Linked DNA regions of Homo sapiens. The protein of the gene in region 3 purifies or fractionates together with the protein of the main gene of each other region. This does not show direct contact. Each region holds a gene or a part of one and is shown on either strand. Other genes may lie near its edges. The genes, in order: FABP5, NAXD, TAGLN2, ACAA2, MTHFD1L, PSAT1 and FKBP1B.

The links.
Region 1: the proteins of TAGLN2 (region 3) and FABP5 fractionate together in Homo sapiens (co-fractionation; one large-scale study listed by BioGRID). This does not show direct contact.
Region 2: the proteins of TAGLN2 (region 3) and NAXD fractionate together in Homo sapiens (co-fractionation; one large-scale study listed by BioGRID). This does not show direct contact.
Region 4: the proteins of TAGLN2 (region 3) and ACAA2 fractionate together in Homo sapiens (co-fractionation; one large-scale study listed by BioGRID). This does not show direct contact.
Region 5: the proteins of TAGLN2 (region 3) and MTHFD1L fractionate together in Homo sapiens (co-fractionation; one large-scale study listed by BioGRID). This does not show direct contact.
Region 6: the proteins of TAGLN2 (region 3) and PSAT1 fractionate together in Homo sapiens (co-fractionation; one large-scale study listed by BioGRID). This does not show direct contact.
Region 7: the proteins of TAGLN2 (region 3) and FKBP1B fractionate together in Homo sapiens (co-fractionation; one large-scale study listed by BioGRID). This does not show direct contact.

What each region holds. Positions count from the first base shown.
Region 1 is NC_000008.11:81,279,083-81,283,335, reverse strand, and holds the start of FABP5 (fatty acid-binding protein 5), read right to left. Parts: upstream 2,801-4,253; 5' UTR 2,741-2,800; coding exon 2,662-2,740; intron 2,397-2,661; exon of another isoform or gene 2,292-2,396; intron 2,004-2,291; exon of another isoform or gene 1,912-2,003; intron 1-1,911. UniProt on the Homo sapiens protein: Intracellular carrier for long-chain fatty acids and related active lipids, such as endocannabinoids, that regulate the metabolism and actions of the ligands they bind.
Region 2 is NC_000013.11:110,632,545-110,636,044, reverse strand, and holds part of NAXD (ATP-dependent (S)-NAD(P)H-hydrate dehydratase), read right to left. Parts: intron 1,501-3,500; coding exon 1,450-1,500; intron 1,374-1,449; coding exon 1,269-1,373; intron 578-1,268; coding exon 457-577; intron 1-456. UniProt on the Homo sapiens protein: Catalyzes the dehydration of the S-form of NAD(P)HX at the expense of ATP, which is converted to ADP.
Region 3 is NC_000001.11:159,920,060-159,922,507, forward strand, and holds part of TAGLN2 (transgelin-2), read right to left. Parts: intron 479-2,448; coding exon of another isoform or gene 451-478; coding exon 271-450; intron 1-270.
Region 4 is NC_000018.10:49,793,034-49,796,533, forward strand, and holds part of ACAA2 (3-ketoacyl-CoA thiolase, mitochondrial), read right to left. Parts: intron 2,849-3,500; coding exon 2,732-2,848; intron 1,395-2,731; coding exon 1,247-1,394; intron 1-1,246. UniProt on the Homo sapiens protein: In the production of energy from fats, this is one of the enzymes that catalyzes the last step of the mitochondrial beta-oxidation pathway, an aerobic process breaking down fatty acids into acetyl-CoA.
Region 5 is NC_000006.12:151,008,702-151,012,201, reverse strand, and holds part of MTHFD1L (monofunctional C1-tetrahydrofolate synthase, mitochondrial isoform 2 precursor), read right to left. Parts: intron 2,384-3,500; coding exon 2,244-2,383; intron 1-2,243. UniProt on the Homo sapiens protein: May provide the missing metabolic reaction required to link the mitochondria and the cytoplasm in the mammalian model of one-carbon folate metabolism complementing thus the enzymatic activities of MTHFD2.
Region 6 is NC_000009.12:78,317,625-78,321,124, reverse strand, and holds part of PSAT1 (phosphoserine aminotransferase), read right to left. Parts: intron 3,450-3,500; coding exon 3,321-3,449; intron 1-3,320. UniProt on the Homo sapiens protein: Involved in L-serine biosynthesis via the phosphorylated pathway, a three-step pathway converting the glycolytic intermediate 3-phospho-D-glycerate into L-serine.
Region 7 is NC_000002.12:24,052,741-24,056,240, reverse strand, and holds part of FKBP1B (peptidyl-prolyl cis-trans isomerase FKBP1B), read right to left. Parts: intron 2,340-3,500; coding exon 2,292-2,339; intron 2,138-2,291; exon of another isoform or gene 2,049-2,137; intron 1,769-2,048; exon of another isoform or gene 1,625-1,768; intron 1-1,624. UniProt on the Homo sapiens protein: Has the potential to contribute to the immunosuppressive and toxic effects of FK506 and rapamycin. PPIases accelerate the folding of proteins. It catalyzes the cis-trans isomerization of proline imidic peptide bonds in oligopeptides.

The DNA.
Region 1 (4,253 bases), on a different chromosome or scaffold from region 3:
GGAAGACCAAAGTTATCATTTACATGATAAAAGCAATAATTCCATTGTAATCACTTTGTGCGGCATATTTTCACTTATTTGCTTATTGATAACTATTGTAAACATATATCCCACGGTATGAGCCAGCACTTTACATATATGAAATTCAGGTAAGCCTTACAACAGCCCTGTAAAAGGCAGATGTTACTGTCTCCATTTTACTGATGAGAAAGCGAGGCACGGAAGTAACTTGCCCAAGATCATTCAACTAGAAAGTGATGGAGCTGGGAACCAAGAGCACTGGCACCCTGGCTCCAAATCTGAGCTCTGGCCACCATGCTATGCTGGCTTTCAGAAAGTTAGGGAAGAAATGTGGACTTCCAAATTTTATTTACTCAAAGCAGTTGATAGAAGGTGGAGATAAAGCATTCAAAATTGCAAATTCAGGAGTTTGCTCAATCTTTTTCTTTTTACTAGATTCTGCCAACCATTACATTCTATGACTCCAGCACAGTCTGGCATATAAATGTTCTCGATAAATATTTGATTAATAGACTACACAAAATAGAAATTGATCCTGAGATATTCAAATAGCACAATCTTTTAAAACTCAGCAGCACAATCATGATGCTAACAAATGGGAAAAAAAATCCTACCTTTCAATATAAAAACTATTTCATAGGTATATAAATCAATAGAAATATATAACATATTAAATTATATTTTAATTTATGATCTATCAATTTCCCCTCAACGTTAACATGTAATTTATGATCTATCTCTTTCCCCTTAGAGTTAGTTAACATGTATAAGGAATCTTAGATCCAGGCCAAATCACTGTTTCATAAATGAGGAGACTACAACCTACGCAGCATGATTGTCTTGATGAAGAACACCCAGCCAGGCTTTAAAGTTCCCCTTGGAGCCTTCTCTTTTGCCAGCTCAGGGCTGGTGCCTTATGCTGTTAATTGAGTCATTATGTACTCTCACTTTGGACAAATAAATGGGCTCTGCTCTTTTCACATTGTGACTGCTCCCTAATGAACTGAGTCTTGACAACCTTCAAGACTCCAGAATCCTGGAAACAAGCCCTCCAAACCTACACACAATTTGCTTTCTACAGGCAGAGAAAAGTGTTCTTTGGGCCTTAAACTTGTACACACACACACACACACACACACACACACACTGTTATTTATTGGACAGGTGCAGTAAATCGCTTTTTCCAGAGTCATCTTGATGTAGGTTTACAAGGAAAAAGAAAAATACTGCCTTCTTTACTGATAGTATCAAAAATACACTCATGATTCACCATAAACCAGCCTTAACACCACATGGTCTTGGATAAAGGGTACTGAAGGAGTGATTCCGAAGTGCCACGGCGACCAGGTATCAATAGAGGGTCACGGTAGTTATTTCACCAGCGAGCAACCGGGTTAACATTTGTGGATACCGGCTTCTGAAGCACCCTCATAAATCCCAGCCATCCCTTAGGGCTGGAAGCTCCCTTCCAGAGAGGATCCATGCTATGCTAACTCCATCTCACTTCCTAGTGGCCTGTGACAAAGGTCCATTTTTGTTTGCAATTTATCCAGTGTCTCAATCAGCATGCAATCTGTCACTGGCATAGAAAAGGACAGTAATTTATAATGAAGCACTGTTTTGAGTGAGAAATGAATCTTACTACTGAGATTCATTCTCCCTCGGAACGCTTCAAGAAGTCATCTGCCTTCTGCAGGGCCACACCCATCTTGCATGCAGTTAGCCGCAGGAGGGCCAGGCAGTTTCTGTTACGGTTTTCCAGCAAAGCCCACTGCCTCCTTCCTCCTCACCCTCAAGTGGCAGAGGCCAGGATGGCAACACACGGCCACCCCCAGGCCTCATTGCGCTCCTCCCACAGGCCACCCGCCCACTGCGGCGCCCCGGCCCGGCAGTGCCAGCAGCAGGTCGGCACCGCCAGCGCCACGCTTCTCGGGGGCCCTGGTGTTCCATGGGGTACCAATCCAAAGGGTTCGGCTCAACTGGTAAGGGCGAGCAGAGGACCTGGGGGAGACGGGGCTGACAGAGGAATGCAAGCTGAAGCTGTAGCGCCACTCAGACCCCTCCACAGGATTTCTGCGGGAAACTGCGCGCCAGCACCGCGTCCCCATGAAGAAAACGGAGGGTGACCTGCGCGCCACAGGGAACAAAAGATGCGACAGGGAGGGAAAGGGGAGTGGGTGCTGCCACGATGGGGTAAATGGGAGAGACAGAATGGTGGCAGGAAGGGGAAGGATGAGTAAAGGGGGAAAAAAGGGAAATACAGGGTCGCCTGGAGGGGGTCGAAAGAAGTGCAGCGTGAGGTGACGGGTGCGCGCGCTAAAGGACAGGAAGCAATGCGGAAGGGCTGCCGTTTGGGCGAAGGGAAAGAAGCAGAGGTAGGTGGACCACGGGGTGGACCACCTCCGGAATCTTGCGGCCCGCGGGCGGGCAAGAGGCGCGCACGCTCCCTGCTCCTCGCCGCCTGCCCGCGTGGTGCTGCGCGCGCTGCACCCAACGGCCGCGTGGTGGGGAAGATGGGAGGGGATGGGGGTAGGCCGCCGAGCATCTCCTGCCCCAGAATCTGGCACGCTGACGGGGACCTAGGGACAGACGACCGCACAACACGCCACGTTGCAGGCGCTGCCAGGCCGGGTGCCTCACCTAGCTCCTTCATGTATTCATCAAAGCCTTTGCTGTCCACCAGGCGCCATCTTCCTTCCAGCTGCTGAACTGTGGCCATGGTGGGTGCGGGCGGGCTGGCGTGCAGAGAGGGGTCTGCGTCGGCGTGGCAGCGTGCTGTGAGGCACCCGGCGCCGGCGGCTGCTTTATAACGGCGGCCCGCGCTGGGCGGCGCTATGCGGCCAATGGGAGGCGGGCCTCGCCCGGTCCCCGCCCCGCCCGCCGGGCGCCCCCTGGGCCTTCTCGGGGTCGGGAGGTGCTAACCAGCTCCTCTTGCCAGGGTACGCGACGGCCTCTCGGGCGCCTCCTGCAAGCAGGGACTCGCCCGGCGCGCCCCACGCCTCATGGACGCCGGCGCCTGCACGTTTCGGCGCCTCTGCAGGCCCAGGAAGCCAGAGGGGTCACCTGGAGGCCTGGCCCCGCCTCTCCTGCACCCCTCCGTTTGACAACATATCCACCGCCGTTTTTCCTTTCAAAATACCCGGACCAATCGATTAGCCCTCGCCGGACTCGGACTGCAGGAAGTGATTGATCGGCTGTTTGGTTTATTGATTCATTAACTACGGTGCCTCCCTGACCTTCTGCTCCTCGCCAGCGCACAAGCTCACAATCCACACCCTCCTAAGAGAACCTGCTCTCGCCATCCGCAGGTCTCCCTGGCCCAATAGTGGGGATATACCTGAGTTGAGCTAGAGGATTTTATCCCTGTTGGGATGGGGGACGTCTCGGGAAGTGTGGTTTCTAAACTAAAAGACTGCAGGAAGTGTCAACTTTAGTGACTGTCATTGCCATTCAAGAATGTTTGATTAGTTTATATTCCCTTCGTAGTGCACCCTTCACCGTTTCTTCTCAGACACCAGCGGGTTTCTTCTCAGACACCAGCGGGTTCCCTCTTTCTCTTGAACTATAATAATACCCTACACATGTGCGTAGAACATGATACGTTTCAAAGTGTACTCTTCACAATTTATTACTTGGTGCTCCCGGGTGCCTGTTGGAAGTCAGATGGACTGAGGTGAGGAAGTTGCCACACAGGCTGGCCGTTTCGATAGCGGTAATGTGCATTTATTGAGTAGCTACTAAGTGCTAGATGTGCTTCCTGGGCACTTTATAGACATTGGTCTCCACTATATTTTTGCTAGGGGTGTTATCCCAATTTTTCAAAAGAGAAAATAGGGCAAAGATAGTTCTCACAGTGGTAGAACCAGAATCCCCATCCAGGTCCGTCTCACTGAAGACCTTATGAAATCAGACCACACCTGACTGCCTTGGGCTCAGGGTAGCTGTGATGGAGCTCTGAGTAGACCACAGTCACCGAGACACTACTAGTTCTTGTATCATCCTTGACAAAATTGAAATCTGAGGTTGGTTTGCTATCTCCCAACATGCTGCAGGACATGTACTCCCCTGAACTGCATCCCTTTCATTTCAAGTCCCTGCCCTCAGTTTAGGGTCACACCAGTCTTCCTTGTGGTACCATTTAACACTCAATTGTTTTCCCAATAAGGGTCTGCATGTCCCACACCCGAGGCCCTACTGCTCAGAAAATATTCGTGTTCTGAGGGAAGCTGAGT
Region 2 (3,500 bases), on a different chromosome or scaffold from region 3:
ACTACCAGCATCAGCTTCGGGGCTTTCTGCACTTTCCAGTCATTTTGATAAAAGAGAATGAAATGCAATAAAATACCCAAATAACTGCATGGATGGTGGATGCCACAGGTGAGATGAAGGTGGCAGCTGGAGACGCGGGACCCTGCACTGTGCCCTGCTGTTGCAGGCACCCTCCCGCCAGACTGCTTCTCATAACTGAGGCAAGGGAATTCAACCAACGGGTAAGGCCCACGGCTCGAAAGCCTGCCCTCACCACTGTCACCTCCCCTGGCAAAACAGTGAAAAGTCAAAACATGGACTCTGAAGAAAGTGTGGTTGACGAGCTCATCAGGAATCCCTGTGTGAATGTGTGTGAACACGGGTGTGCACGGGAGAGGTCTTCCAGGGCTCATGCTCGGTGTGGCCATGCTGACTGACCTGGCACTGGCCCATGCACAGAGGGCAGCCGCCACTCACCCTGCTGGCCGTTGGAGAGGATGTCGCGCTCTCCTTTCTGGACCACCGTCACGTTGCCCAGGGCTTGGCTGAGTCTTAGCACAGATCCATGGCTGTCATCGCTGTCCATAGGGCCTCTGAGCTATGACAACACAGGAAGACAGAGAAAAAGCAAAGTCTTCCTCAGACACACGACGACAGATAGCCCTGTCCCATCCGCCATGAGACTCATGCTCTCGTGTCTAAAGGGATCACCCAGGCACCTGTTAAAGGCCATGTAGGTGGGAGGATGCCCAGGATATCACCTGCAGTGAGTCCTCCGAGCAGGTGCTGACACGGTGCCTGCTCCAGTGCCCATCCTCTACCTCATCAGAGCAGGCTGAAGGAGGACCACCCAAGACTGGGTTCTGAGAGCTTTGCAGGAGTAATACAAATTCCAGTCGTACTGGGCACTAACATTGATGGGACACTTACCATGTGGGGACTCACGGCTTTACATAGGTTTCCTCATCTCATCCTCACAACCCCGTGAAGCTGATGCCATCATCACATTACAGATGAGGCACTCAGGACACAGACAAAGTGACCTGTCCAGAGTGCACTGCAGGAGGGGCTGACTGACCCGAGTCCCTGCCTGTCCCAAGCCCACTACACCATCGTTCATCCAATCCAAGCGCATTAATGGGAAGACGCGCCATCCGCTGGGAGAGGCACAGCGATTACTTGCAGGTGTGTCCACAGGGACAGGCTGGGCAGAAGCATGGAGCTCGTCCTTCACCCTCTTCAGGACGAACAGGGCTTGCATCTACCCTCCAGGGGGTCCACTGACTCACCACAGCGTCATACAGTCTGCTGAACTCCACGTGGTTGGGAGTGAGCACAGCCTTCCGGTAGCCATGGATGAGGGCCGGCTGCTGAGCGACCAGCCACAGGCCATCCTGCACAGAACAAGGAGCCGTGCTCACTGCACAGGCCTTCCGGGAGTCCGAGCCAGGAGGAGAGAAGTCAACTCACCGCGTCGATGACAACAGGGATGTCCCTGGCCTTTGACACTTCCAAAATGCCCTGCCAGAAGAGAAAACCAGACTGAGCACCATGCCTGCTGCTATGGTGTGGGTATGTGTCTTCTCAAAACTCATGGTGAAACTTAATTGCCAAGGGAAGGGTCCTGGGAGGTGGGGCCTTTAAAAGGTGATGTGGCAGTGTCCTCATGGGTTGGTTTAATGACCTTTAAAAGAGGCATAAGGGTCTCTCTCCTGCCCTTCTGCCCTCGCCAGATGCCGGCACCTTGATGTTGGACATCCACCTTCAGAACTGTGAGCCAGTAAACGCCTGTTCATTATCAATTACCCAGTCTGTGGTACGGCTACAGCAGCGCAAAACCGACTAAGACACTTTTCCCAAGAGTGACAGAAAATTGAGCAGACTCTTAATAAAATGCAACATCAGGCCATCAAACAATAAATGGAAAATAATCAAGTAAATGAATAAAATAGAGAAGCAGAAAGACCCAATGAACTCGCAGAGCCCGTAAACAAGGCAGGACACTGGGAACTCTGAAAGGCGAAGCCCACTGGAAACGCTATGAACAACAGCTGGGCTCCTAGGCTAACCCATGAAGACAGCCCCCGCCCCAGCAAGGGCATCCAGTTCTCCAACAGATACTAATACGCAGCATTCGGAGGCAGGAAATCTGAATTCCTGAGAATTCCCCAAATCATTAGTCATTATGTATTTTTCATATCACTTTACTTACACGTTTTAAAATAACAACAATAATAAACAGGGAATCATTTTTCCCTGATAGGATTACAGTGAAGGTTTCAAAGGTTTTCTATTAAAAAAAAAAAACTACATGTATAGATACACACACATATATGTAATATTTGGTGGTTTTTATTATTATGAGCCAATACATTGTGACAAGATTATACACTGCAGTAGCATGTAAAGTGATCCTGACTTGACAGACACCTGATAATACAAAACATTAAAATAGAAAACATTAAACAAAATGAGAGGTGACAGCATGCTGGCAGTCCTCAGAGCCCTCGCTTGCTCTCAGCACCTCCTCTGCCTGGGCTCCCACTTTGGCGGCATTTGAGGAGCCCTTCAGCCCACCACTGCACTGTGGGAGCCCCTTTCTGGGCTGGCCAAGGCTGGAGCCCACTCCCTCAGCTTGCAGGGAGGTGTGGAGGGAGAGGCGCGAGCGGGAACTGGGGCTGCCTGCAGCGCTTGCGGGCCAGCTGGAGTTCCGGGTGGGCGTGGGCTTGGCGGGCCCCGCACTCGGAGCAGCCGGCCAGCCCTGCTGGCCCGGGGCAATGAGGGACTTAGCACCCGGGCCAGCGGCTGCAGAGGGTGTACTGGGTCCTGCAGCAGTGCCAGCCCACCGGCACTGTGCTCAATTTCTCACCGGGCCTTAGCTGCCTTCCCGCCGGGCAGGGCTCGGGACCTGCAGCCCGCCATGCCTGAGCCTCCCACCCCCTCCATGGGCTCCTGTGCGGCCCGAGCCTCCCCGACGAGCACCACCCCCTGCTCCACGGCACCCAGTCCCATCGACCACCCAAGGGCTGAGGAATGCGAACGCACGGCGCAGGACTGGCAGGCAGCTCCACCTGCAGCCCTGGTGCGGGATCCACTGGGTGAAGCCAGCTGGGCTCCTGAGTCTGGTGGGGATGTGGAGAGTCTTTATATCTAGCTCAGGGATTGTAAACACACCAATCAGCACCCTGTGTCTAGCTCAGGGTTTGTGAGTGCACCAATCAGCACCCTGTGTTTAGCTCAGGGTTTGTGAATGCACCAATCGACACTCTGTATCTAGCTGCTCTGGTGGGGCCTTGGAGAACCTTTATGTCTAGGTCAGGGATTGTAAATACACCAATCGGCACTCTGTATCTAGCTCAAGGTTTGTAAATACACCAATCAGCACTCTGTGTCTAACTCAGGGTTTGTGAGTGCACCTATCGACACTCTGTATCTAGATGCTCTGGTGGGGCCTTGGAGAACCTGTGTGTCGAAACTCTGTATCTAACTAATCTGATGGGGACGTGGAGAACCTTTGTGTC
Region 3 (2,448 bases):
CCTCCCACAGTTCTTTCCTTAGAGACATTCTTCCTCAGTGTCACCTCAGTCTTCCACTGCCTGGGAGGCACATTCACCCTTACCCTCCACTCCACGGGAAGGGAGGAAAGCATGGGCCCTCTCACATCCTTGACAAAGGCCTTCAAGCTGAGGAAGAGGCTGGGACATGTGTGCCTTCAGTCTTCTCCTCTTCAGGTTAAACAATCCCCAGTCCACTGGACCCAGTCCTGCTCTCCCTGCACTTCCAAGCCAGTGGGGCCCGGCTCTCACCGTGCCATCCTTGAGCCAGTTCTGGAAGTTCTCGCGTCCAGGCTGGGGCCGGCCCACATCCTTTCGGCACTGGGTGGTGATCCACTGGATCAGGATCTGCTCCAGATCTGCATCATATTGTTTCTCAATCTTCTGCTGCACCTCCCGGCTCAGGCCATATGCAGGTCCCCTGTTGGCCATTCCAATGGGTGGCGGTGGCTGCGGGGAGCTAGGGAGAGGACACACCCGGGCTTTTGGTCAACACCTTGCAGCCTGGGGAGTGGGGAATTCAGGAATTCTGCCTGCAGGGATATACACCATTTCCCCCACGGTGAGCCCCAAGGATGAGGACCAGAACTGTTACCAAATGCAACCCTGCTCTTTATAGCCCTGGGAAAGAGAATGATTTGGGGAGAGGAGGAGGAATGTGGAACAGCTTAGGAAACTGGTTGGATCTACCCTCCCTCAACCTCTGGGTTTTCTTTGCTTTTTTTTTAACCATCTAGGTTGGTGCAAACCACTGGATTTTAATTGAGCACCTACTATCTGTGCTAGGGATTGTGAAAGAGATAGTAGAAGTCCTTGGTCCTCAAGTGCCCACAGTGCCATCAGGGAGACAAAGTGAGTACATATGAACAGGTAAGGATTGCACACAAAGAATACTAAAGTGCACAGTTCAGATCACATGTTGTAGGAGTTAAAAGAAGCAGACGGGCAGAAGCAGCCTGGGAAGGCTTTCTGGAAGAGGTAGGCTTGAATAGGTCCTTGAGGGATTTCAGCAAACAAATCGAATTTCCTATGAAAAACCAGGCAATAAAAACAAATTCTACTTTCCCCTCTAGGAGCTATGACAGGCAGAATCATGCCCCCGCAAAAGGTGTCCATGTCCTAATTCCCAGAACCTGTGGATATTGTTATCTTATATGACAAAAAGGGACTTCGTAGATGTGATTAAGATCTCGAAATGGGGAGATTATCCTGCATCATCTAAATGAGCCCAGTGTAATCACAAGGGCCTTACTAACTGAAAGTGGGAGATAGGTGAGTCAGAGTGGGAGAAGTAACAACAACAACAACAAAATGGAAGTAGAAGTCAGAGTCACACAGGGCCATGAACCAAGCAATGCAGGTGGCCTCCAGAAGCCAGAAAAGGGAAGGAAATAGATTCACCCAAAAACCCCAGAAGGAACACAGCTCTGCCAACACCTGTATTTTAGCCAGTGAGACCCCTGTTGAGTCTGTAGAACTGTAAGATGCTGTATTTGTGTTGCTTTAAATCACTAAGCTTGTAGCAATTTGTTACAGCAGAAATAGGAAACTAATACAGGAGCCCTGGGTGATATTTTTGGGGAAACCTGGAGAAGAGAAGGCAAGACGGGGAAATACACAGGAGGGTTTCTTTAACTTCGTTGGAGGAGCTTGATTAGCAAGAACTGGGTGGTTTCCCGACCAATGGCCTGAGTTGGCGGACCTCACTGTGGCAGTGTGTTCCCACCACACTCACCACCTGGGTCTGACACTCAGGGGCTGAGCAAGACCCGGGCATGGTATGGATGCCAAGGGGAGCCAAGAACCAAGAATGGGCCACAGTCCCCATTTTCTGTCCCATCCCCACCCTGGTTTGGCTTTTCTCTCTTCTCCAAAACAGAGCTAGCTGTCAGGCTGCTCACGAAAGGGGACCCCCAGGACAGGCATCTGCGTTCAAGGGGAAGAAAGAGAGCCACCCCTTCTAACCACATCTGGCTCCAGGCCAGGTTGGCCTTCAGGGATGAAGTCACTCCAGCTCCCCCTCTCCCACACACCCAGGTTAAACAATCCCGTCACCCCCTCTCAATGGACCTTGGGGCTCTGCGAAATACAAGGGGACCAGCCTGCCTCAAACCCTCAACACCTCTCGGCCGCAGAGGCTGTGTCTTGGGCCAGTCCCTCCCGTCCCGACTCCAACATGGCTGCTCCTTTTTACCCCAGCTTATCAAGCTGCACATTTCCGGCAGATCCTCCCCTAAATCAGTTATTTTTAAACCTCATTAAGAGCAACCCGCCCCCTCCACTTCCCCCAGCCCGAAAGCTGGGCCAGATAAATGTCAGTCTGGGCCCCGACCCACAGCGCCAGGCACACACACCATCAGCTTGGGGAAGGCAGGCGGGGTGGGGTGGCTGAGTTCTGAGGAGAAACCAAGAGAAGCATCCCTGCCCTTC
Region 4 (3,500 bases), on a different chromosome or scaffold from region 3:
TAGATGTAATGGCAATAAATGGACTTAATACCCCTTTTAAACTTCTTTTGGTGAGATAAGCAATTAAAAAGTTACCAAGTTGTCTATGCCACAAAGTAATCTAACTGAAACTTAATAGTGATAGGCAACCTGAAGAAATTATGGGAGCAATCACTAATACAATTATAAGTAAAACATCTTACCTACTTTGACCTCCACTGACTAGAATGTACTGTAGTAATCTATAGCTTTGGAAATAGGGTCAGGAATAATACTAACCTTAATTTTCATATCACTTTACAATTGGCAAAATACTTTCCTTATATGCCCTTATTTGGTTTTAAAACAACCTTATTAGATAAATAGGGAAGGCAAATATTGTTATCTCTATCTTACAGAGGTTCAGTGAATAAATGATATGACTGAGCTTGATAACTTGTGCGTGGTAGAAGTAGAAACAGAACTGATAACTCTTGACTTCTAGACCAATCCTCTTCCACTATGAACATATAAGTAAAAAAACACACGAGTTAGATGGCATCAGCTCTATTCCACTTATCCTTCTGAAATGCTAAGATGGACTTTATCCTCATTACTTCAAGCATTTAATATTCCTAAATAAGAGTTTCCACTTGCTTTAACAGTTTAATTTTTTAAATATCACATTTCTTCAACTTGCTGCACTGCTAAAAGAACTGCTGTCACATTTGCCTGTTTTGGACCGGCTCTATAGCAACCTGCTGTGCTACACCAGGGCACTCTAACTAGAGTCTCGGACTAGTTCTAAGTCTCTGAGTTAGGTACAATGATTCTTAATTAGGAGTGGCAGAAGGAAAGCATAAAAGACCCAGTGGGTCTTTTCCAAATACATTACCCCTTCTTATGATTATGATATGGCTTGTGGGAGAGGACATCCTCTATATTCCAGTTGCCACAGTGAGCTATCACCTCTGACAGAACGTATCGTATTCCTCATCATGTTCTACTGACAACAGGACCAGTTCAGCACAAAACTCAAGGGTCCATCTAGGGTCAAGTAGCAATACCACTTTTTAAGTAGTACTAACTTTTTCAAAAGAGAAATTCCTAGTTAATTTTGCAATAATTAATAAAATATCTGATCATCTAAAGACAAAGGAATAATGAAAAGATGTAATAATTCTTAAAGGTATGATTTGTAAATATTATATAACCATAATAGAAATGATGAAAATATTTCCTATAGATATTTATTCTATAGATACTGATACTTTCCAGTTTCACTCACCAGCTTTCCATCTCTGCTGTGACTGCAGGGCATATTTGTCACATTCTTCTCTGCTTATTTTGTGTTTTACAGCAAGATTCTCTGCAGTCATTGCCATGGGGAGCTGGACATGCTGATCTGTTAATGATACCCATAAAGAATCTTCCAGCTATTAAAAGACATTAATAAAGTGACTTGTTAAGGCATTTCCTTTTAAAAGTAATATGTTATAATTTCTTTAAATAATCAACACTTCCAATAAACAAAAGTAAAATTAAGACTTTCTGATAACCACTATTCATATTCAGTTATGGGATATTTTTTAAAAACATGCAATGTTTTTGAAAACATTCAATGTCACAAAATAAAATGCACACATTCTCTGTCCCTCTCTAAATGTGGGGGTCTAAGAACAGCTAACAGGACTAGACGTGCATGGTGAGATCACAGAAGTTACCCTACGATCAAAAATTAAATCCTCAAGGTCATATTTTGTAGAAAACCTGACAATGAGTCTTCATGCAATGTTTTCTTATAGCCATCTTTGTAAACCAGCCCTGAGCTCTGTAATAAACAGTATTATCTGTTTTTCTTTTTCATCCTGCGCCTCAGTGACAGGAATAGCTGGTTCTATCGGTTACTATGAGGCTGAAAAGATCTTGGGACAGGTTCCCAGAGTTACAGAAAGGTTGTTAATTATTATTCAAGTAGTTAGTCTCTGGTAAGTGTGCCCCACTTTGCTGCCTCATCAACATTTAACTCACTGACCTGTCTTCATAAAAGATATCTCAAATGTGTTTGGTGGCTAAAATCCGCATAGATTCTCTTAAGTCCCATTCCTTTCAACTTCCAAAAAGGCCAGGTGAGAAACTGGGTGAACAGTGTGAGTCAAACATTACTATAGAAAATGCTAAAAAATATAAAATGTCAGTAGCCCTTTCACATGGGAATGAGAAGAAAACATCATTCTTTATCAGTACTGTACCATCATTCTCAAGTTGTAGCTCTCAAAGATAAAAGAATCAGTTTTTGTTTGATTTGGGACAATATAATCTGTATTCAAAGATGTTTTCTGTGATGATGAAGAAATCTATTCTGAGACTGTCCCAGAAATAAAACTTCTATAAGTCACGTTAAAGATTTAATTACTCAGATTACTAATTGTTTAGTAGTGAGATTAATTCACTCTTTTGTCTATCTTTTTAATCCACTTCTTCCCTTCCTCCATCTCTCCCATGCCTATGGCCACTTACACAGGATAATTATACTACTAGAGGTCTGCTGAGATAGATAGAATCTAATTTCATATGGGTTAAAATGTCAAAACTAACCACCAAAATAGAGTTTTGAAATAGTTTACAAACTTCTAATCATTCATATCTTGCCAATCCTCATCAACGAAATTGGCTTCAAAATTAGTTTTCTCTCCCATAAAAAGGTATGTTATTAAAAGTACTTATATAATGCTAATAAGAACTAATTCTTTTAAATTTTTATGGTTCCAACCTTGATATCTGATCCAAGCTTGGTTCCAAAACGCACATTTCTGACACAGTAGGGAGCTTGGCTCATGCTTTCGGTTCCTCCACATAAAACAACTTCAGCTTCTTTAACACAAATTTCCTATTTAAAAACAAACAGTAATAAAAACTCCTTTTACCGTACCCAAACAATGTATTAAGAAACACACTGATTTTACAAATTAATGGTAAATCAAACAAATATTGTACTGTAGCTTACAGTGTCTCAAAAGGAAATGCTTTTAAAGTAACTGTAAAGCAAATGCTAAAGTATCCATTACCAAGATGTAGGAGGAGAAAACTAAAAGGTTTCAATCATGTTTGCCTGAGTAACAGGCCCTACCTACATGTGGCTAAGAATAGTAATTCTTAACACAATATAAATCTTGAAAATCAACAGATATTAATACCTGGCATAAATGTACAGCAGATAATAAAGGACATACCCTTTAAAAAGGCAAAAGAAAAATTTATCCCATTAATGGATGTATCTGAACAAGAACAGAGATTTACAAGAACTAGTTCAATCTAGGTGACTCATAAAAAGGAAACCACTTCATTCTTCCAACACTTTCCACTGTTTGCCTTTCTCAGAAAAGGAGCAAATAATGAGCCTCTATGAACCTGATGGTTCTTAAAATTATTACTAGGAAAACCGAGGTCACTATTTAAGATATATCGTTATAGAAACAAATTAATGTGAAAATTGTTTTATTAAAATACGCCTCTGGCTCTTATTTTGTTTGTAATAAAAT
Region 5 (3,500 bases), on a different chromosome or scaffold from region 3:
TTAATAAGACACAGTCCCTAAACTCAAGGAATTGAGAATTACATAGGGAGACACAGAACAAGGCATTCATGAAACAATGTGAGGCAGAAGGTACTACTGGAGCCCAGGAGAGGGATGCCTAGCTTCACAGGGCTTCCTGGTCCCTGCTGGTTTTTTTTTTTTTTTTTTTTTTTTTTTTTTTTGTTGTTGTTGTTGTTGTTGAGATGGACTTTTGTTCTTGTCACCCAGGCTGGAGTGCAATGGTGCAATCTCAGATCACTGCAACCTCTGCCTCCCAAGTTCAAGCGATTCTCTTGCCTCAGCCTCCTGAGTAGTGGGAATTACAGGCGCCCGCCACCACTGGTCTTGAACTCCTCAGGTGATCCACCTGCCTCAGCCTCCAAAGTGCTGGGATTACAGGCATGAGCCACCACGCCTGGCTGGTCCCCACCTTTTCTTATCCTCCACCCATATCTGTGCCTACTAACCCTGTTCCATGTTACCATGATCACTGGCTGAGAACCATGACATTAAGCAGCAGTGGAAGAGACACAAAGGATTAATGTGGCACGAAAGTGCAACCACTGAATAACAGAGCACATATGTTAAGATGAATGAAATAGGATTGTAAACCATGTAGAGAATTTTTACAGGACAGAGACCAGAGTCTGGAAAACTATGGGACTGATGTCAAGAGACCAGGACTGTAGATCTGATCAGTCCCTGAAATAGATGTGTGACACCACTCAAGTCACTGCGTCTCCCTGTGCCTCAGAGATTTTCTCTTTATAAAGACTGAATGAGATCAGACAATCTCTAAGCCCTTTCTATAATTTTCAGGGTGGCAGGGCAGGGAGGGAGAATTCCAAATGCATCCTACATGGGCGGAAGTAGTTTTTAAAAATAGAAGTTGTTATACAGATTCAATGTCTAAAATCCAGGAAGGACTGTAGCAACAAGGGGTGTTTTGAGTGAAGTCAGAATTCTTTATGATTTACTACTTTTAATCTGTATTATATCATTCTTGCATTTGAAATGATGATGAAGCTTTAGGCAAAAATGAAGTGCTTAAGTGTCGGGTATTAGGAGTGGATTTGGATTTAGAAAACTTCTGCCCTTCATTAACATCCAGCTCTGCATGGTGGACATAGTAGGAGATTTAGATCTGAAGTTCTCGGCTCTCTGCTGGCCTGCTGACATTGTCCATATTCCCTAAGCCTATCAAAACTCAGCTTCCTTATCTGTAAAATGGTATAAAAATCATGTCCACCTCTCCCAGGAGAAAGAATTGCTTTACAGCGTTTCATGATGGCAAACCTGCTACTTGTTTTGACTATGCAATAATCATTGAATATATGACTTTTGTCACATACACAGTACAGTATACCAATTAAGAAATCAGATTTGGCAGTTCGTCTCATATGTGAATATTATGATAGAGAAATTTTATTTTATTTCAAAATGATTAATCAGTATAAAATGTCTTATTCTCCACTTGGAAATTCCTAAAAATGAAACAAAAAAACAACAAACAAGCAAACAACAACAAAAAAACCCCCAAAAATCTATGCACAGGTTTTCTGTGGAAAGGAATATATTTCCTTTATAATGTCTGTAATTTCTATATATATTAGGATAGGTAAATATAAAAAGTCTTTAAAGAAGTTAAAATCGAATTTGTGTTTTCCAAGCAAAGCTCTTAGAAACAATCCAGTATTATAACAGAGTTGTGAGGAGAAATCATAATAAACAGAAAGAGAAGGAAAATAGTTTTAGATGAAATCTGATGAGTTGCAGCATCAGTGAACCGAAAAACTATCTGTACAAACAATGAAAAATCTCTGTCATCAAAGAACTCACTCTAATCCTCTTGTTCTTCGTTCAGGGACAAGAGCCTCTAACCTCCCATTACCATATGGTTATACAATCTTGGCCTGAGTATCAGATGTGAAGCTTGAGACTAAAAAGTGGTTGCATTATGCTCCTTTCCAAAATATTGTTTAGAAAGAACTGTGGGTGTTACTGTTTACTCGAACTTACTAAACTCAAAGTGCCCTATGGTGGTGTTGGGAAAAAACAAAAAACAACACAAAACAAAAAACGTTTTAGATGTCCACGAGGGAGGTCTACAGGAAAAAAAAAGTTTTAAGAAAAATACTCTAGAAAACTATAGTCATTAAATGGGCAGGAATTTTTCAAATGCTCAATTCTGTTTTAACATAATGAAATTTCTTTGGTATTAGGAAGGCGGTGTGGGCACTTACACTTGGCCCGCCTCCATGCATCTTCAGAGCTCGCACCGTTGCCACTAACACAACCACGTTGGGCACCAAGCCGGAAGCTCGGCACTTGATGTTGAAGAATTTCTCCATTCCGATGTCAGCACCAAAGCCAGCTTCGGTCACTGTGGGGAAGCAAGTGGAATATGTGCTATTATCTTCTAAAAACAAAGGTAGGTTTTGGCAATCACCACTATGATTCGAGCTCAAAGGACAGCTTACATTCCTTTTGTTTACCAACACAAAGGTGAACTGATTTCCCCATTGTCATAGAAATGTTCTTCACTTTCTGCCCTAAAGAGACTGCGCCCTCCTCTGCTTCCCACCGCCAGGCCTGAGGGATTCCTTGTGGTGGCCAGGCCAAGACTTTTCTTCCCATATCATAACTCACAGTGAAGCTTTTTTTTTTGGAGATGGTGTCTTGCCCTGTCGCACAGGCTGGAGTACAGCGGCATGATCTCGGCTCACTGCAACCTCTGCCTCCCGGGCACAAGCGATTCTCCTGACTCAGCCTCCTGAGTAGCTACAGGTGTTTGCCACCACACCTGGCTAATTTTTTATTTTTGTATTTTTAGTAGAGATGGGGTTTCACCATGTTGGCCAGACTGGTCTCAAACTCCTGACCTTGTGATCCACCCGCCTCAGCCTCACAAAGTGCTGGGATTACAGGCGTTGAGCCAAGGTGACCAGCCAGTGAAGCTTTTCTTCATACAGATGGGGATTTTCAACTTTGTAATCAGGTTCCAAATTGTTTCAAAAGGCAATGATAGTATGATTACAATGGAAGATCCTTTCTTACTCTTTTTTTTTTTTTTTTTTTTGAGATGGAGTTTCGCTCTTGTCCCCCAGGCTGGAGTGCAATGGCACAATCTCAGCTCACTGCAACCTCCGCCTCCCGGGTTCAAGCGATTCTCCTGCCTCAGCTTCCCAAGTAGCTGGGATTACAGGAACCCACCACCACACCCGGCTAATTTTTTTTTTTTATTGTTAGTAGAGACGGGTTTTTGCCATGTTGGCCAGGCTGGTCTCAAAGTCCTGATCTCAGGTGATCTGCCCACCTTGGCCTCCCAAAGTGCTGGGATTACAGGCATGAGCCACCACACCCGACCCTTTCTTACCCTTTATATTAAGAATAATTTATTTTAGTGCCACCCAGTAATTTCTGTTAACTGACAAATTTCAAGTTAGTTGAAGGGCATAAGGATACTGATGGTCAATCTGGATACAAGACAGCAGCTTTAT
Region 6 (3,500 bases), on a different chromosome or scaffold from region 3:
GAGATGACCTGCCCAGGAGATGACCTGCCTGCCACATTAGTTTGGCAGGCTGCCTTCTGGGAGAGGCCCAGGTTTAGTGCTTGGAGTTAAAGGACCTAGGCGTGGCGGGGGGGGATTCAGGAGAGTCCCAGAATTCCTTCTATGCTTTCTTATTTTGTTCCTGATGCCCTTAATTTTTTTCCCAGTGGTATCACCGTTCTTTCTGTCCTCTAACATCATGTCTACACATCTCCTGAGAAATGTATAGAGCTAAAAGCTAATAGAAAAATTGGTCTCCCGTCCACTATACCCACCAAGTGCTTTTACTCACATTCAGGTTCTCAGCACTTTTTAGGGAGCCAGGGAAGATGATTTATTCTTCTCGGTCTTCCAGGAGCCTAGAACAAGGCTAGTGTACAGAGCAGGTCCTCAGGAGCCATTTTATGGATGGATGGACGGTTGGATGGATGGACAGATGGATAGATGGATGGGTGGGTGGGTGGATGGGTGGGTGGGAGAATGGATGAGTGGATGGATGGATGGATGGACAAGTGGGTAGATAGATGGGCGGATAGGTGGAAGGGTGAATGGACAGATGAGTGGGTGGGCGGGTGGATGAATGAGTGGATGGATGGATGGATGGATAGATAGATGGGTAGATAGGTGGAAGGGTGAATGAATAGATGGGTGGGTGATGGATGGATAGATGGATGGGTGGGTGTGTAGGTAGATGGATAGATAGGTGGGTGTGTGGATGGGTGGGTGAATGGATGGATGGGTGGGCAGATGGATGGATGGATGGATGGATAGATGGATGGATGGAAGATTGATGGATGAGTGGATGGGTAGGTGAGTGGATGGATGAATGGATGGATGGATGAATGGGTGGACAGATGGATGTCTGGATGAGTGGATGGGTGAATGAATGGGCGGGTGGATAGATGGGTGGATGGGTGAATGGGTAGATGGGTGAATAGGTGGGTGGAAGGATGGGTGGGTAATGGATGGATAGATGGATGAGTGAGTGGGTAGATGGATGGATAGGTAGGCAGGTGGTAGATGAATAGATGGATGGGTGGGTCAATGGTGGATGGATGAGTGGATGAGTGGATGAATGTATAGATGAATGGGTAGACAGATGGATGAATGAATGAATGAGTGAATGAGTGGATGGATAGATGGGTAGGTGGGTGGATGGGTGGGTGAGTAGATGAATGAATGAATAAATAGGTGGACTAAACACGCCCTCACACACTTCCACGGACCTTCTTCCCAATCCCAGCATAAACCATGCCCTTCAAGCAGCCCATGTTCTGCTCCCCAAACACACTGTACACTCTTCCCTCAGTGCCTTTGCGGGGATGATTCTAACCTTTCTAAAAGTACTTCTGCCCTCTTCTCTGCCTAATTCCACTCATGACCAGGGCTCATAATAAGCTCATGCAAAAGCCCTCTCTTCACTCCAACCAAAGAGTATCCCCCTTTTCCAGGCTCATGCCACATTCTTTAGCCCTTGGCTATGAAATCTTTGGATACCTACTGCTGATCGTGCACTTTAAATGGCTTCAGTGAGCACAGGCAGGGTATCCTGGCCTCCAAACTCACACATCAAGGTCTAGTGTGGAAGCTTCCCCAGCACTGAGCCCCCAGCCTGCACTTGCTTCTCTGTTGCACAGAACCAGAGAACAGGCAGTAATGCAGAGTGTGTACCCCTTCCCTGAGATGGTGCCTGGGAAAGGAGCCCAAAGGCCAAGGCATCCCGCCAAGCCTAACTCCCCCTGGGCTTGCAGCTGGAGGAGGGCCACTGCATGTCAAGAGCTCACAGAAACAGGCAACAAGCATTGCAAGAACAAAGGTGACAGCAGCATGCCATCCAAAAAGTACACCAGCACTGCCCGCCCATGGGTGGTTATGGAGATGTGTTAGTTAAGTCTTGGCTAAAAAGTACAATCCTAAGTTAGGACAGAGGCATCGTTTTGTCGGTCCCATGTGGCCACTGAATTATCTGAGAGAGGGCAAATTTCCAACTTACCATCAAGCAGATATTTTTGTTACTATAGACTGAACCCCAAAGAGCAATGGCCACTAAGAAGGGGGTTCTCAGTTTGGTGAGTTTAAGCATTTATGTATATGTGTAGGCGCACATACATGTACACAGCAGGAAGTCTGGTCTTTGTATACCTGTAACCACCTTAAGGGAAAGGGAAAAGCAAATGAAGATACCACCTGTTACACTTCTCTGCATCCAAGGCACCGCACTAGGTGCTTCCCATCTGGCATTTTGGTGAAGGGCCTATTGTTGTGGATTGAATGGTGACCCTGAAAAGGTATGCGCATGTCCTAACCCCCAGAATCTGTGAATATGACCTATTTGGAAAAAAAGGACTTTGCAGATGTCATTATGTGAAGGATCTCGAGATGAGATGATCCTGGATTATCTGGACAGGCCCTAAATCCAAAGACCTCTCTTTTTAAGAGACAGAAGGGAAGACACGGCAGAAAGAAGGCCATGTGAAGACAGATGTGGAGGCTGGAGTGATGCAGCCACAAATCAAGGACCACCCTGAGCCACTAGAATCTAAAGGAGGCAAGGCATGGCTCTCTGGAGGGACCAAAACCCTGCTGACATTTTGATTTTGAACTTCTGGCCCCAGAAGAGTGAGAATCAGTTTTCTGATGTTTTGAGCCACTAAGTCTGTAGTACTTTGTTACACCAGCCCCAGGAAACTAATACAAGACCCAGACATTTTCTGCAGAATTCCCAGGTGCAGGGGCAGTGGTTAAGACATACTCATTAATCATTTGTTCATGGGAATATTTAAACTGGAGTCAGCCCATGCCAAAGCCAATTCCATTCACAGACTCTGGGATAACAGCATCTGTCTTATAATAAGGAAAGGAGTGAATTTTCTTAAAAAGGGAAATAACGCAGAAGAGGAGGACAGGAGTATTTGTCCCAAAGATCGCTAACAGGAGTCCTTAAATTGACACATTTCAGAAAGTACATTTGTTTTTTTCCCAGAAGATATACAAAGGAGGGAGTAGACGGGACCTACCCCAGGGAGTGAACTGAGATTCTTCCCCAGGGCGATGTCTTTGGTGTGAGAAACATCACCACCCACTGGGACACAGGTCCCAAAGCCTGAGAGCCCCAGGGTGAGGTACAGGAGGGAAGAACTCACCACCCACTCCCCTGCTCATGGGGCCCAGGACCACACACACTCACCAGTATTTTAATGTCTCAGAGAAAGGTGAATATGTCCACTTTTCAAAGGTACACAGTATATACACAGTTTTAAATTCACAAGAGGCAAAATAGGAGATAAAATCCATTGACTTACACGTAGAATCCTTGAGAATTATCAATAATCTCATAAATTGTTTGAGATTTGATGGAGCTAAGCTTCTCCATGGCCGCGGCACCTCCATTGTTTTTAATCCACTCCAGAACCAAGCCCATGACGTAGATGCTAAAATGAAGATTTTTAAAAAATCCGTTTAGCTCATCTTTGCAAAAGTAG
Region 7 (3,500 bases), on a different chromosome or scaffold from region 3:
AGGCAGGCAGATCACCTGAGGTCAGGAGTTTGAGATCAGCCTGGCCAATATGGTGAAACACCGTCTCTACTAGAAACACAAAAATTAGCCAGGCATGGTGGCGGGCGCCTGTAATCCCAGCTACTCGGGAGGCTAAGGCAGGAGAATCGCTTGAACCCAGGAGGCAGAGGTTGCAGTGAGCCAAGATCATGCCATTTCTCTCCAGCCTGGGCAACATAGACTCTGTCTCAAAAAAAGAAAAAACAAAACAAAACCAAAACCTGACAATAACAAGTGTTGGGGAGGACACAGGGTAACTGGCAGTCTCCTACACAGCTGCCTAGAGTGGAAACTGGCACAACGACTTTGGAAAGCTGTCAGACAGTACTGCTAACGCTGAGCCCAGGAGGTACCCCACTTCCAGGTATATACCCAACAGAAACATGCACATATGTCTGTACACATGTACACTAAGAGATGCCTGCAAGACTGATCAAAGTGACACTGTTTGTAATAAACAAAAACTATGAACAACCCAAATGTTCATCAACGGTAGAGAGGATACATAAATTGCAACATACTTGTACGTTAAAATACTGTAGAGGAATAAACCATTCTGGATATATCTCGCAGACATAATAGTGAGTGAAATAAGCCAAACACAAAAGAGTACCTACGCTGTGGTTCCATTAAGATGAAGTTCAAAAATAGGCAAAACCAATCCATGGAGACAAAAGTCAGAGTAATAGTTGCCAGCCAGGCACAGTGGCTCACACCTGTAATCCCAGCACTAGGAGGCCAAGGTGGAAGGATCACTTGCATACAGGCGTTCGAGACCAGCCCGGGCAACATAGTGAGACCCTCATCTCTACAAAAAATTAAAATTAGCCAGGCATGGTGGCTCATGTCTGTGGTCCCAGCTAGTCAGGACACTGAAGCAGGAGGGTCACTTGAGCCCGAGAGGTCGAGGCTGCAATGAGCTGTGATCACCACTGCACTCAGCCTGAGTCACAGAGTGAGACCCTGTCTCAAAACAACAACAACAATGACAAAAAAAAAAAAAAAAAGAAAAACAATGATAGCTACCTCTAGGGAGGTGAAATGACTGGGAGAAGGCATCAGGGGGACTTTTGGGGATGCTGGTTCTATGCTTGTATGTTCTATGCTTCTCTAGGTGGTAGTCACATAAATGTGATCACTTTGAAAAAATTCATTGACCTAGACATCTTACATTATGTTCTCTACTATATTTATATTTAACTTTAAAGTTTACCAAAAGTCCCATAGTCTCCCGCTATGTTTGATAAGACATAGTCTCTCCCAAGACAGGAGCTGCTGCCCTATGTATGTATTGTGAAAGGACTTTGCAAAAGGATGTTGTGGTTTCAGTAACTTGATAAATACTGGTCTGTCTACAACATGCAAAATTGTTAAATCAATTACACAGGTCAGAGGCCCCAGACGACCCATGGTAATTAGGCCACATCACCAGGAGATAAAACATGGTCCAGCCCACTGACATCAGCGACCAGCAACACAACTGCTGAAAACATCCACACCATCTGCCTAGAATTAACCTTGTGCTTCACACTGGCCCACAGAACTGCTAAAAATGGCCCCATCCGAGTATGTCCTAGGAATTAACCTGGGCTTGCTGTCTGCTAAGTGGCTGTCATCGAGTTTGCCACTTTAGGAAGCAGGTCACAAGGCAGGGTGCTCACCTCCCTTGGAACAAACACCTGCTCATGATCTTCCTGCCAGCAGTCCTGAAGAACTCACTCTACCTCGCCTGCAGATAAAGAGCATCCAACTGGGATCAGTCCCGCTCTGGGCTCCCTCAGTACCCAGAGAAAAGCACTGCCATCACCCCACCCCTCAAATGGCATCGGAGCCTCTGGGTGACTTGTCTGTCCTCTCCCCTCCTCTTCTTCTCTAATGATACTGCAGGATGGAGAGAAAGTCTGCGGGGAGCTCTAGGAGGGATTTCCAAATATCAGACAGACCCAGCAGGGACAGGGGCTCCACCATACCTGCAACAGAAGGAAGGGGACTGAAGGTGTTTGACTCACCTAGAAGCTGGCACCATGGATGGCCCTTGCTGGTAGAAGAGGGAAAGAGTTGGCCTTCCAAGCCTCCTTTATCATTCCCACTAGACTGGCTGGGAGGAGTAGAGGATGGCTGGTCACAGGGAGACCCTGCTGCCTTGGGCTTTAGCCCTGATCCAGAGGCAGGCACCTCTGGAGAGAAGCTCAGAGGACAGCCCTGCCTTGGGAGGGGAAGGACTGGGTGGGGGCTGAGGGGGTGAGACTTACCTGTGTAGTGCACCACACACGTTTGGCCCTTCTTGGGGAATGTCCTTCCTGCAGGGAGACATGAGGGCAGATGAAGGAGTAGGATATTGGAAAAACACCTGGGACATTAAGTATGATCCTGACCAAGAGCTCCAGCCTGCATTCCCCTCCATGCCATGGAGATGCCTGTGGCCCTAGTTCTGGCTCTGGGCCCTGTACGAGCCAGAATGAATCACGTCACCTCTCTGGCCTGGATTTACTTTACCCCCTCAATTTTCTCAATTCTGCTGTCTCCTGGGCTTTCCCACCACCCCACCCCCACTTTCTTTGATTGCCCCTTTTACTTCACATCATCCATTCCACAGACATTTACAGTTGGCCTCCTATGTGCCAGGCCTGGACCAGACTTCAGACATGCAGAGCAATGTATGAACTCATGAGGAAGGTAGGGAAACAGACACACAAATACCAGATTACAATGCAGATTATAATCCATCCATCAAAGATGAATAAACACAATAATTTACAAATATTTGCTGAGAGGCCAGGCATGGTGGCTCACATCTGTAATCTCAGCACTTTGGGAGGCTGAGGTGGGAGGATCACTTGAGCTCAGGAGTTCTAGATCACCCTGGGTAACATAGGGAGACCCCATCTCTAAAAAAAAAAAAAAAAAAAAAAAATCTTTTCAATTAGCTGGGTGTGGTGCCGCATACCTATAGTCCCAGCTACTGAAGAAGCTGAAGTGGAAGGATTGTTTGAGCCCAGGAGGTCAAGGCTGCAGTGAGCTGTGTTCATGCTACTGCACTCTACCCTGGGTGACAGAGCAAGACCCTGTCACAATAAACAAACAGACAAAACAAAACAAAACAAAACCACAAATATTTACTGAGTACCTATGGTGTGCCAAGCCTGTGCCTGATCACAGGGATACAGCAGTGAACACTACAAACAAGATCTCTATCCCTGTTCTTTTAGAGTTTACTTTTTTTTTTTAAGAGTAGGGGTCTCAGTGTGTCACCCAGGCTGGAGTGCAACAGCATGATCTCGGCTCTGTGCAGCCTTGACCTTTCCTGGGCTCAAGCAATCTTTCTTCCTCTGCCTTCTGAGTAGCTAGTACTGCAAGTGCATGCTGCCATGCCCAGCTAATTTTTTTAAAAAAAATTTGTAGAGACAGGGTCTTAACATGTTGTCCAGGTTGGCCTTGAACTCCTGAGCTCAAGAGATTCT